Regions from separate parts of the Homo sapiens genome. Here all the other regions are linked to region 2. Evidence: fine-mapped QTL for protein levels in blood plasma. Region 2 holds a variant in brackets. A gene starts in each other region. All regions are shown on their forward strands. Region 1 holds the start of FCRL6 (Fc receptor like 6). Region 2 holds the start of LOC124903019 (a long non-coding RNA gene). Region 3 holds the start of CD300LF (CD300 molecule like family member f).

Evidence for each region. A credible set is the group of variants that fine-mapping cannot tell apart. PIP is the chance, under the fine-mapping model, that this variant and not a neighbour inherited with it causes the effect. Protein levels are from antibody-based Olink assays in UK Biobank. Linkage for the fine-mapping came from a reference panel and not from the study's own genotypes, which makes the PIPs less certain.
Region 1: FCRL6 starts here. The variant in region 2 is the best candidate, but not a certain one, in a credible set for the plasma level of the FCRL6 protein (UK Biobank, PIP 0.53).
Region 3: it holds the start of CD300LF, and the variant in region 2 is the best candidate, but not a certain one, in a credible set for the plasma level of the CD300LF protein (UK Biobank, PIP 0.58).

What each region holds. Positions count from the first base shown.
Region 1 is chr1:159,800,736-159,804,835 of GRCh38, forward strand. It overlaps FCRL6 (Fc receptor like 6), which reads left to right and starts at 1,625. Exons shown (of 10, transcript NM_001004310.3): 1 at 1,625-1,720. The coding sequence starts at 1,690. It overlaps LOC105371464 (a long non-coding RNA gene), which reads right to left. Exons shown (of 3, transcript XR_922195.2): 1 at 1,803-4,100; 2 at 1,213-1,412.
Region 2 is chr12:111,443,525-111,447,617 of GRCh38, forward strand. SH2B3 (SH2B adaptor protein 3) reads left to right here. Exons shown (of 8, transcript NM_005475.3): 3 at 3,229-3,330; 4 at 3,418-3,509; 5 at 3,601-3,695; 6 at 3,806-4,020. LOC124903019 (a long non-coding RNA gene) reads right to left here and starts at 1,221. Exons shown (of 2, transcript XR_007063462.1): 1 at 1-1,221. RefSeq lists enhancers at 741-860, 1,611-1,880. The variant T/C (reference allele first, on the strand shown) is at 3,280.
Region 3 is chr17:74,710,551-74,714,652 of GRCh38, forward strand. It overlaps CD300LF (CD300 molecule like family member f), which reads right to left and starts at 2,373. Exons shown (of 7, transcript NM_139018.5): 1 at 2,274-2,373. The coding sequence starts at 2,316. It also overlaps a transcript of RAB37 not described here.

The sequences.
Region 1 (4,100 bases), not on the chromosome of region 2:
TCAGACAATCTAGGGCAAGAAAACTTAGAAAATTCTCTCTGTCCATTCCTGGCCTCAGCAATAGGCACATCAAATTCCATCAGACTATGTAGAACTTCTCACTTAAAGATTTCCAGGAAGAACTTTACTGTCAGAAAATGCTTAGCCAGGCATGGTGGTGCATGCCTGTAATCCCAGCTACATGGGAGGCTGAGGCAGGAAAATCACTTGAACCTGGGAGGCGGAGGTTGCAGTGAGCCAAGATTACACTCCAGCCTGGGCAACAGAGCAAGACTCCTTCTCAATAAAAAAAAGAAAAAAGAAAGAAAAGAAACAAGAAAATGAAAATGCTTCCTAGTATTTTGCCTGACTCTGTGTTTCACCGTGAACTCCCATGTTCTGTCCACAGAGGAGATGAGAATGTGTGACCTCTTTTTCTGTTGAGGGAACATTGAATAATTTCCAGTTTTTATCTATTACAAATGATGCTGCTATGAGCACTCTTGTATATGTTTTTTCAGGCTTATATGTATACATTTCTGTTTGACATTTACCCAGGAGTGAAAATGCTGAGCCATCAGGGATCCCTGTGTTTAGTTTTGGTAGATTCTGCCAAGCCATTTTCTAGTGACTGTACCAATTTATATTCCCACTAGTGGTGTACAAGAGTTCTAGTTTCTTCACATCCTCACCAATACTCAGTAGAGGATTGCATGGGGAGGGTCACGGGCTCCCCCAGACCCAGCTCAGTCTCAGCTGGTATCACTCCCTTATTCTTATGGAAGGTGTAGTGGTATCTTATTATGGTTTAAATTTGCATTTCCACGGTGATTTATGATGTCTAGCTCCTTTTGCTATGTTGATTTGACACGTGGATATCTGCTTCTGTGAAGTACCTATCCAATTATTTTTGCCCATTTTTCTAGTATGTTGTCTGTCCTTTTCTTACTGACTTGCAGAAATTCTTATATTTCTTCTGTGGGCCCTTTGTCAGCTACATGTATTTAAACTATCTCATCACACCACAGCTTGCCTGTTCCTTCTCTTAATGGTGTCTTTTAAGGAATAGTTCTCAAAATCATACTGACAGTCTTAAAAGCCTCAGATGCCGAAGCTCCATCTGTGTTCTACTCCAGACTCATCGATGTCTGATTCCCTCCTGAACTGAGGATCCTGTGAAGCATCCTCAGGGCTCCACTTCTCCATCGCATTGCAGCATCCACACACATTTACCTCTGGAGACAGGAGCTCCTTGGAAGCTGGGAGGTCACTCGGTGGTCAAGGGGTAGATGATCTTAGTTTTACAGTGCTGCGCTGTCTCCCAGGCTGAATGACGCTGAAGCCAAGCAAATTCGGGCAGTCTCTGGACCTTTCTAATGGAGGTGTCCCATAACCATGTTCCATCCTAGTTCCCTGGCATAGGCTTGTTGAAGCTGCAGAAAATGTCAGGGATTTATTAGTGATTTACCGACTCCTTCATACTTAGTGTTCAGGAAAATTTATTCATGTAATACTTCTTCAACCAAAGAGGAAATATCAATTAGAGCTTTGTAAGTTTCTTTTCCACTTCCTATTTTGGCTATCAAGCTATAGCACCACCCAGCTCAGGCCACCCACCCACCTTCGGTCCTGAGGCCTGGTTGCTCTCTGCCGGCTTCGCCCTGACCTGTTTCTGACCTGTGTTCCCTCCGCTGTGCCAGAACAGGCCCCATGCTGCTCTGGACGGCTGTGCTGCTCTTTGGTAAGTCAACGAGCATGGGCATCCCCTCTTGGAGCACTAAGGACCGTAAGTCATCCCTGAGACACCAAGTTCCTCATCTTACCTTTCCCAATTCCAGTGGGTTTGTGGCTGGAGCTCAAGACAGGTGTGTGCACCTGGGCATGCTTGGGAGAGATGGGCACTGGGGTAGGAGAAACTCCTCAGTGTTTCCTACCCCGTAGTCCTGGGTCCTTGGCAGCGCAGCCCTTTGATATGTCAGAGATAAATTAGGGAGGCAGAAAATCACATTACAAAGTCCCCTAACTTCCCAATGACATTTCTACCTTGTGACATCAGGTTAAAATACTAATCAGAGCTGTCTCAAAAGGAAATGGAGGTTGCAGGAGGGAAGGAGGCTGCTGGGGGCAACAGGGAAGGAGTCAGGGAAATGAGGGGAAACAGTCCCAGGCATTTTGCTCAGCAATGGGAGGTGGAATTTTACAGGGTGACATATTTTTATGGAGCCTCAGCATTTTCTTAGAACCAGGTAACAATGGCCAGACCTCTCACCTGGTTGAAAGGCCTGTGCTCTGAGTAACCAAAGCCCTTTTCAAATTGACTGTCTCTCTTCCGCCTACATCTTCTCTCTGTTGGGAGCTGTTTCAGATCCATGGGGCTGGTTTGAAGAATCAACTCCATTGTCTGATCCATGTCTCTCTCTCTCTTCTCTCCATTTCTTCTCATGCAGGCTACTTGTAACTAAGAGAGCTGGTCTAAGGGTAGAGGATTGCACGCAGAGGGTCACTGGGCTCCCCCAGACCCAGCTCAGTCTCAGCCAGTGTCACCCCCCTTATACCTAAAAGAAATAATTTGGCATATATTTTGTTTCACTTTACAGTTTCCAAGTGGACCTACTTTTTGTTTAATTCTTGGTCCCAATAGCTTGCTTGCTATTTGTATTCCTTGAACTAGAAAAGCAAAACTGTTCCTAAATATAACCTCTTCCTGGACAGAGTTTGTGAGAATTTGACCCTGTGAGGAAAATGCCCCTTCCACTCAATGTTCCTTCTCCAGCATAGCATGCTACTCGTGTGTTCTATGAATGGCCATTTGGACAAATGAAAAGGTCTAATGCTCACACTGAGGCGGGGACAGGATAGCCTAATGCCTGGATATACTCCAGGCAGAAGACTCCCAGGGGCAAATGGCACTACCGGCACTACCTTGTAAAAGGAACAGCCCTTGGACTTGTCTAGATACAGTCTGAGAGTGTTCCAGCTTGGAACCCAGGACGAGGATGACAGACAGCAAATGAGGAGAGGAAGGGAATCAGTGACCGGCTGACTGGTGCACAGTGTAATGGAGAATCCAGCACCAGCAAATTTGGTCCCACTTGATGCTCAGGGACCCTGGAAAAACAGCCTAAAACACAGACACTGGGGCTGGGTGTGTAGCAACATTTATCTTACCATAAGTGTAGAGCTGCTATTTCCTCTCTCAAGAGCAGGGTGTGGTCATAATAAATTGGTGGCTATTACTATTATTGGCTGTCAGGGCTCCGGGAGGAAAGGAATCCTGACATTGAGCATGTGGGGACCTGGCTGAATGTGAAATATGTATTTAAAGTTTGGGAAATTAGGCTTAATTTTCTTCTGAGCTGAACATTAGCCAACTTCCCTCCTACCACTGGAGGCTGCTCCCCGCATTCTCACACAGCGTCCATAGGAGGTGTCATGGGGTCCCATACAGCCCTCCCAGCAATGTGACTGCTGCAGCTTGGCACTGCAGCCTGTTCCACAGTGCTAGAGCTCAGTGGTGAGAGAGTTCTTCATGTTGAGCCGAAATCTGCCTCCATGATCCCTCTAGTTTCCATTTCTGTCCTATAAAGTAACTCAGAATAAGTCTCCCCCTTCTTTTAAGCTTAGCCCACCAAGTATTTTGTGTCTTTCCTCTGTTGCATCTTTCCCAGATAAATATCTCCCGATCCCTCAGAAACTTTAAGAGGAAATTATCCTGCTCCTAGAGTTGGCAGGGGCTCCTGCCTTCATTTTTCGGAATTCTATTACGCAACTTGGTTTGACCATAGCTCTTGGCCACTTCATGATACTGTCACCTCATCTTCAGCCTATAGCTAATGGAGGTCCCTGGGCCCTCATTGCAGGAACTGCTGTAAGCAGGTGTCACCCCCTGTGTATGTTCCCAGTTGGCTGCTGTTTTGATTGCAGAAACCAATTTTGTAATCCCACCTCCAAGATCTTGCAGTACCATGGGGAGCAAGTCATTGAGATTTGGGGACAGGAGCTCATTTTAAGTGCATCTATGCTTCCTGAGTGCCTTCTGTCTTGTTTTTGGCTTCAGTAGTCTCAACCCTGTTTGTTTAGCACTTTGTAGCTGCACAATTGTTTTCCAGTGAGGTGGGGAA
Region 2 (4,093 bases):
CAGTCCTTTGTTGTCCCTGTCTTGTAATTAGTTAGGGTAGTATGTTGGTTATATTACGTGGAATTTATTGCAGGATGGTAAGGGAGCATGTGACAAAATGGGGCAATAGTTCTGTAAGGCTGAGAGAAGCTGGGGGTGTACCCAGTGGCTAGGCTACTCAGAGGGGACTGTCATGCTGTCAGTAGTGTAGTGGGAGCCAAGCAGGCTTTACTCACCGGCCTGTTAACAGCTGTGCGAGTCATGCCTTTCGCTTGTGTTAGCTCACCTTGTGAAAAAATGAGCTGAATTACAGATGACAACTAAGGCATGGAGAGCCGAACCCTTTGTCCAGGGTTGTATAGGAAGTGGCAGGGTCAGGGCTGAATCTTAAAACCTAGAGGGTAGGGCCCGGCGTGGTGGCTCATGCCTAAAATCCCAGCACTTTGGGAGGCCAAGGCAGGCGGATCACCTGATGTCAGAAGTTCGAGACCAACCTGGCCAACCAACATGGTGAAACCCCAGCTCTACTAAAAATACAAAAATTAGCTGGGTGTGGTGGCAGGTGCCTGTAATCCCAGCTACTGCGGAAGCTGAGGCAGGAGAATCGCTTGAACTCAGGAGGTGGAGGTTGCAGTGAGCCGAGATTGCGCCACTGCACTCCAGCATGGGCAACAGAGTGAGAATCTGTCTCAAAAAACAAAAACAAAAACAAAAAACCCTAGAGGATAAAAGAACTATAACATCTGGGATAAAGTTAGCTGTTGAAATAAATACAAGTCCTACCGTTGGGGTAGTGTCAGAGCTGGCCTACGTCTTTGACTTTGAGATTCCTAGCAGCCAGAGCAAAGAAAGAAATAGATTATTCCCACTGGAGCCACAGTGGCCATAACAAACAGAAGCCATCTGTTTAGATGCTGGGAATGGAGAAGACTTGCTCCCCAGAAATAGACGCTGCAGGATGTGGTGGGTGACAGTCTACTGTTCAAACCACAAATACCTGAAATGATCTGGCCACTTTGATCACCCAACCACAGTAGAGCCTAAGCAGGTCCAGGGAGCAGCTGTTGCTGGCCTGGCTTGACTTTTGAGGGAGGTGGAATAGCGGGCATGTGAGAGGAGGGAACCTAAAGCCCCCACAGCTGCTGACACAGCCCCCAGGTTTGAGCTTGTCTCCCCTCTCACCCATCCCCCCATATAGCTTAATCTGATGGGCATCTGGTGGTCCTTCCCTGCAGTGGCCAGAGCCTGAGCTGTCCAGGCTGAGGTTTCGACTGAAGCAGGGGTTGTCCTGCGCCCATGTGCCCACACGCTGCAACCTGGCTGGAGCCTCTGGCATAGGACACCCATACCACCAGGTAGCTGTGGCGGACCCCGGCTCTGATACTTGGCAGGCTTGGGTTGAGATTGTGGCTCTAGGCCTGGGCGGCTCTCAAGGGCTGCTGTGGGGAGTTGGGGAAGAACCCCTGGGTTGTGCTCAGCCAGCAGGCAGGTGGCAGCCAGGCTGGCTGTGGGTGAGGAGGGGAATCCTCTTTTCACCACTGCCTGCCTGCTCAGCAGTTCTTCAGCTGCTGGGGGTGGAGCTGGCTTGCAGGGGCCAGAGTCAGAGTGAAACCGGCAGCTCTGCTGGTTAATCTCAGCACTGACACTGGGGACTAGGCCTGGAGCGGAACTGAAAGGGAGACTAGGCCCGTTCCCCTCCAGGCCTGGCCTATATCCTCCCAGTGATCCTTAAGGCCTGCAGCTAGGGGGAAGGGTGGGGGCCAGGCAGGGCCAACTGGAAAAGTAGCAGAAGGAAGTGGCCACTCGCACCTTACCCATCTTGCAGACAGGAAATGAAGGCTCTGCAGGGCTGGCTGGCTGTAAAAATGGGCAAGAGCGCAGAGGCCCCACTCCCTGCACACTGCGCTGTGTCCAGTGCCCGTGTGGATGCCATGTGAGGCCTCACTCTGCCTGCCTCATCCTGGCTGCTGGACCTCTGGGAGTAGGAGGTGAAAATGCCCTGGCTGGTGCTGGTCACTTCAGGCTGGAATTTTCTAGTCATGCAGCTTTCTAGTGAGAGGCCGCAGTGAGCTGTGGCCAGTGTTGGTCATTCCTGCAGTCATTACTCTCCCCCAGCCTGTTGTGTCCGCCAACCAGAGCAGGCCCGGGAGCTCCCAGGAGACCTGCTGGAAGGGCCCAGGTGGCCATCCTGCTCCTGCCAGGCTGCCCTCTTACCTCACTGTTCATTGACTCTCCTGCAGGTGGGGAAGGGGGATAAAGGAGGTGGCCAGGCCACTGGGTCATGATCCTTCCGACAGAGGTACCTGGCAGCTCTGTGTGTAAAGCAAGGTTAAGCATCTGGTTTTGGGGGTCAATTCAACAGCACTAGCAGCTCCAGTCCAAGGTATGCCCTTTTGGGCTGAGGTGGAGGTCAGATCACCTGAAGCCACAGTTGCTAGAACATCCTTTGGGCTGCCTCTGCTTTCCATCCCCCTGCTCCCAGTTTGTTAGGGGTTGTAGTATTTTCCAGGAACACCTGAATGGAGGGGGCCCAGTGGGGCCACTTCTGTCCATTCCTTATCTCATCTCTTTCTCCCCTTTTCTTCTTTCGGCCATCTTTTCAGTCTTATCACAAGAGGAAGGGGAGGGGCAAACCCCCTCCTGAGCAGATTCCCAACCGGAAGCAGCTGGCTCCTTGGCTGCAGAGTGCCCCAGCACAGGAAGCATCTGCAGGGTCAGTTGAGACCTGGGAGCAGGTTTCCTGCTGGCAAAGGAACAGTGGCTAACTCCTATCCACCCTGCAGCCCTATGTGCCGGGTGTCCTGGGAAGGTCCAGGGCCAAGATTTTGTGGTTTTACAGTGGCTATAACTTAGGCTAGCCATGCTAGGCTCTGCCCCTTTGGGCTTGGTGTGATGAGACCGTCAGCAGCTGCTATCACCTGGCTGGGCAGGGAGCTGTTTGCTCACCAGTGGGAAGAGAAACGGATGTCAGACACATGGCAGAGTGGGAATGTCTCCAAGTCCAGGTCCAATGGGCTGGGAGGGCTGGCCTTCTGCCAGCACATGCTTCTTGGGATCTCAGTGTGAATGGTGTTCAGGAGGCTAGGGGAAGGCACCCTGGACCTCACTACAGGCTCAGAGCCTGCCCAGCAACACCATGGATACTCTCTCTAAAAGGGGGACTCCTGGGGAGACTATAGACAAACTCAGGCCTGGCTGGAAGAAAGAGCATCAGGAACAAGCCTTGAGTACCCCAACTTGGTCTCGTAGAGTTCAAGGCCCAAGCTACAAGCAGCTTGCTCCAGCATCCAGGAGGTCCGG[T/C]GGTGCACACGGCTTGAGATGCCTGACAACCTTTACACCTTTGTGCTGAAGGTGAGTGACAAGGCTTTTCACACCCTGGGGCAATACAAATACATACACATACAGCAGACCCAACCCTGTTCCCTTCCTCCCTGCCAGGTGAAGGACCGGACAGACATCATCTTTGAGGTGGGAGACGAGCAGCAGCTGAATTCATGGATGGCTGAGCTCTCGGAGTGCACAGGCCGAGGGTGAGGTCCTGGGCCCTCGTCCCTGGCACCACCTTTGCTGCTACCACCCCTGACCTGCCCAGATCCTTAACCTCAGCCTCTTCTCCAGCAGGCTGGAGAGCACAGAAGCAGAGATGCATATTCCCTCAGCCCTAGAGCCTAGCACGTCCAGCTCCCCAAGGGGCAGCACAGATTCCCTTAACCAAGGTGGGTAAACCAATAGCTAGGCCATTGTCTTCTGGGTACGCTGGAACCCAGACTCAGCCCAGGACATAAGGTAGCCCCCTGCGACCACCATCACCCATCTTATCTAACAGGTGCTTCTCCTGGGGGGCTGCTGGACCCGGCCTGCCAGAAGACGGACCATTTCCTGTCCTGCTACCCCTGGTTCCACGGCCCCATCTCCAGAGTGAAAGCAGCTCAGCTGGTTCAGCTGCAGGGCCCTGATGCTCATGGAGTGTTCCTGGTGCGGCAGAGCGAGACGCGGCGTGGGGAATACGTGCTCACTTTCAACTTTCAGGGGATAGCCAAGGTATGGGGTGGGGTGGGGTGGGGTGGGGCAGGCAGGACCGTGCCACCCCTCTCCACTGGAGTTCAGGGTCCTA
Region 3 (4,102 bases), not on the chromosome of region 2:
AGACTTATGGAAAAAAAGCACAGTGAGGCTGGGCGCGGTGGCTCACGCCTGTAATCCCAACACTTTGGGAGGCCAAGGCGGGTGGATCACTTGAGGTCAGGAGTTCGAGACCAGCCTAACCAACATGGTAAAACCCCATCTCTACTAAAAATACGAAAAAAAAAAAAAAATAGCCAGGCATGCTGGCACACCTGTAATCCCAGCTACTTGGGAGGCTGAGGCAGAAGAATCACTTGAATCTGGGAGGCAGAGGTTGCAGTGAGCCAAGATCGCGCCACTGCACTCCAGCCTGAGTGACAGAGCGAGACTCTGTCTCAAAAAAAAAAACAAAAAATCTGTTCTTGCCAGGCACGGTGGCTCATGCTTTTAATCCCAGCAACTCAGACGGCCAAGGCAGGAGGATCACTTGAGCCCAGGAGTTGAGGCTGCAGTGAGCTATGATCATGCCACCACACTCCAGCCTAGGCAACAGACTGAGACCCCAACTCAAAAAAAATAAAAAACCTTCCTTTCTCACAGAAAACAAACTTCCGGATGGGTATTTTTTTTCTTGGGTGTTTTAAAACGATAAATTATTTAGAAGAGGGAAACAGGGTAAGCACACTTGCTGCTTGTGGGTGGAAGTTCTGCAGGAGAGGCTGGCAAGAGCTGATGCATGCAGGTTCACAGTGGTATCCGGGCTCCATGTTGGCGCCCATAGCTGTGCCTGCTGGCTTTTCTGCCCACTTCAGACAGAGGTCCCAAACCACTCCCACTCCCAACACGACTCTCACATCTGCTCACTACCAAATTCTCTCATTTCCAGGTGTCAGAAAAAAAGCAGCCATACCTGTCCTGGTCTCACTGTGCCAATGCATTTCATAACATCTCACCCAAAGTCTGCCTTCTCCACTTACATGCTGAAACTCGGGGCCAAGTGTCCATGAGCCACTCCCTGCTCTTCCTGTACCAGCCTAGCAGTCCTGGACAAGTCACTTTCTTCCCCAAGACCTTTTCTCCAATCTGTCCCACCAGGATCTTCTGAAGCATGAGGCAAAGCCGTGCTGACCTCCCTCTTCCTCAGACGTGCCCAGTCCAAGCTCATTCCTACACAAGAGCCCTCGTATCTACTGTTCCCTGTGCCTGGAAAGCTGGTCCCGATCCTGTGTCTGATCCTTTTCCTAGGTCTCGGCTCGGACAGGCATCTGGGACCCTCTTCAGGGGGGTTGTTTCAGCCCACCTGACTTACAGCATCCCCCTACCTGGGTCCCACTGTAACATATCATCTTGTTCTGTTTTCCTCACAGTACTTATCACTTCTCACTTCTTGAAATTATTTTTTTGTTTTCTTTCTTTTTTTTTCTTTTTTCTTTTTTCTTTTTTTTTTTTTTTTGAAACAGAGTCTCGCTCTGTCACCCATGCTGGAAGGCAGTAGTGTGATTACAGGTCACTGCAGCCTCCAACTCCTGGGCTCAAGTGATCCTCATGCCTCAGCCTCCAGCCTCCCAAGTAGCTGGGACCATAGGCACATGCCACCATACCTGGCTAATTTTTGTACTTTTTGTAGAGACAGGGTTTCCACATGTTACCCAAGCTGGTCTCGAATCCCTGAGCTCAAGCAATCAGCCTCCCAAAGTGCTGGGATTACAGGAATGAGCCTCTTTCCCTGGCCTCCCTTCATTTTTAATAAAAATTGTATGCACCAACTTAAGGTGTCTCCTGCCCTCTGGCTCTGCCCACATCTCAGTCCCTCCTTTCCTCTACGTCCCTGCCAGTCTTATCTCCTCTTGACCTTTCCGTCCCTCAGCAACTTCTACTATTTCCTTCTGCCCCAAATGCCTAGAACCACCACTCCCTCTCTGCCCAGCAAACTCCCTCTTCCCTCCTTTCAAAGTCCTCCAGCCTCACCTCTTCCCTGACGCCTGCCCTTGCTCAGAACACCTCCACGCAGGTGACAGATCACCCAGTCCAGGATCAGGCAGTCGCCTGCTCTCCTGAGCAGCCCATGTTCCTCCTCTGCTTTTCCCTGGCCGGCGGGGCCTACAGTCTGTCCATTTCACATGATCAGCCCCTGGGGGTCAGGAATTCTGCCTTGCACTGGCTTCATTATGAAGGTCATGCCCTGTATTCCTGCCTTGGCAACGGAAATGCTAGGTGAATGGTGGGTATGTGGATGAAACGCACAAGGCTCATGCCATTAAGGACACCTTCTGGCCGGGTCCCTTCTTCCCTCTCTCAGCCACCTCCTCCTGCTTGCTAAGCTTCCCCAAGAAGACAGACCCAGGCCCGCTCACCTGAGAGCCAGAAGAGGAGCAGGTAGAGTGTCAGCAGGGGCATCTTCTCTTCAGACAGGTCCCCGTTCCCCTCAGTGGAGCCTGGCAGCAGGAACAAACTACAGACTCCCAGCCTTCTGCTGGTACTCACTCTCGCCCTTGAACTTCCTCCTTCAGTCACTTCCCATGGGTGAAAGAGACTAAAAGAGGAAGGAGGTGGTTGGTTGGGCACCGTGGCTCAGGCCTGTAATCCTGGCACTTTGGGAGGCCAAGGCGGGCGGATCACGAGATCAGGAGTTCAAGATCAGCCTGGCCAACATAGTGAAACCCCGTCTCTACTAGAAATACAAAAATTAGCCAGGCGTGGTGGCGCACACCTGTAGTCCCAGCTACTCAGGAGGCTGAGACAGAAGAATCGCTTGAACCTAGTAGGCGGAGGTTGTAGTGAGCCGAGATCGTGCCACTTGCACTCCAGCCTGGGTGACAGAACAAGACTCTGTCTCAAACAAAAACAAAAAAAAAAAAAAAAAGAGGAAGGAGGTGGAAAGGGTGAAATTTCGAGGCAGTTGACAATGCAAGGGGTCACAGGAATCATCAGCTTCTGAGAAGTACCTCTCTGTACACAGCCACCGTGGGTTCTCTAAAAAGAGAACTTCGTGGCTCCTCTGTCATGTGGAAACCTGCAGACAGATCCACTGGGTCTGGCCAGCCCTTATCCAATCCTCCAAACCTGGTGGGTTGGCTGGGGGCAGGGGCACGCGGCTCCACCAGAGGGGTCCTGGAGAGCCACGGCTGATAGACACGATGTCCTAAACCTGGAGCTTCAGGTGTAGCCAGATGCTTGGGAGCCCAGAAGGCCAGAAGTTCAAGAGGATTGAGGGGCACTTGTGGCCAAAGTCAGAAAGCCAGAGGAGAGATTCCAGACCAAAGGTTGGAAGGCAGCTATGAGGAGATTGGGTATCCAACCCCAGACTACAAGGCCAGGTACGGTGGCTCACACCTGTAATCTCAGCACTTTAGGAGGCTGAGGCAGGAAGATCACTTGAGGCCAGGAGTTCAAGACCAGCCTGGGCAACATGGCAAGGCTTCATCTCCACAAAAAAAAAAAAAAAAAAAAAAAAAAAAAGTCAGGCATGGTGGCTCATGCCTGTAATCCCAACACTTTGGGAGGCCAAGGTAGGCAGATCACTCCAGGTCAGGAGTTAGAGACCGGCCTGGCCAAAATGGTGAAACCCCATCTCTACTAAAAAATACAAAAATTAGCTGGGCGTGGTAGCATTCACCTGTAATCCCAGTGACTCGGGAGGCCGAGGTAGGAGAATCACTTGAACCCAGGCGGCAGAGGTTGCAGTGAACCCAGATCGCACCACTGAACTCCAACCTAGGCAACAGAGCAAGACTCTGTCTCAAAAATAATAACAATAATAATAATAATTAGTTCTGCAGAGTCATGCATGCCTGTAGTCCAAGCAATCTGGGAAGCTAAGGCCTGAGGATTACCTGAGCCCAAGAGGTCGAAACTGCAGTGAGCTATGATTGAGCCACTGTTCACTGTACTCCAGCCTGGGCAACAGAGCAGACGCTGTCTCTTTAAACACACACACACACACACACACACACACACACACACACGCACGCACAGAGAGGTTCAGAGAGAAGGGAGATGCAAGCAGGGAACTACTGGCCCACTGACAAGAGGCGCTTTGTCCTGAGAACACGAAGGAAGCTCCTACTGCTGTACCCCAGCCCACCAGGTGAGATCCCAGGGATACCTACATCTGGAATCTTCCAGAAACCTGTCCATTGTACCAGGGGGTCTACCTGAGGAAACCAGTTCATTGCTCAGGACT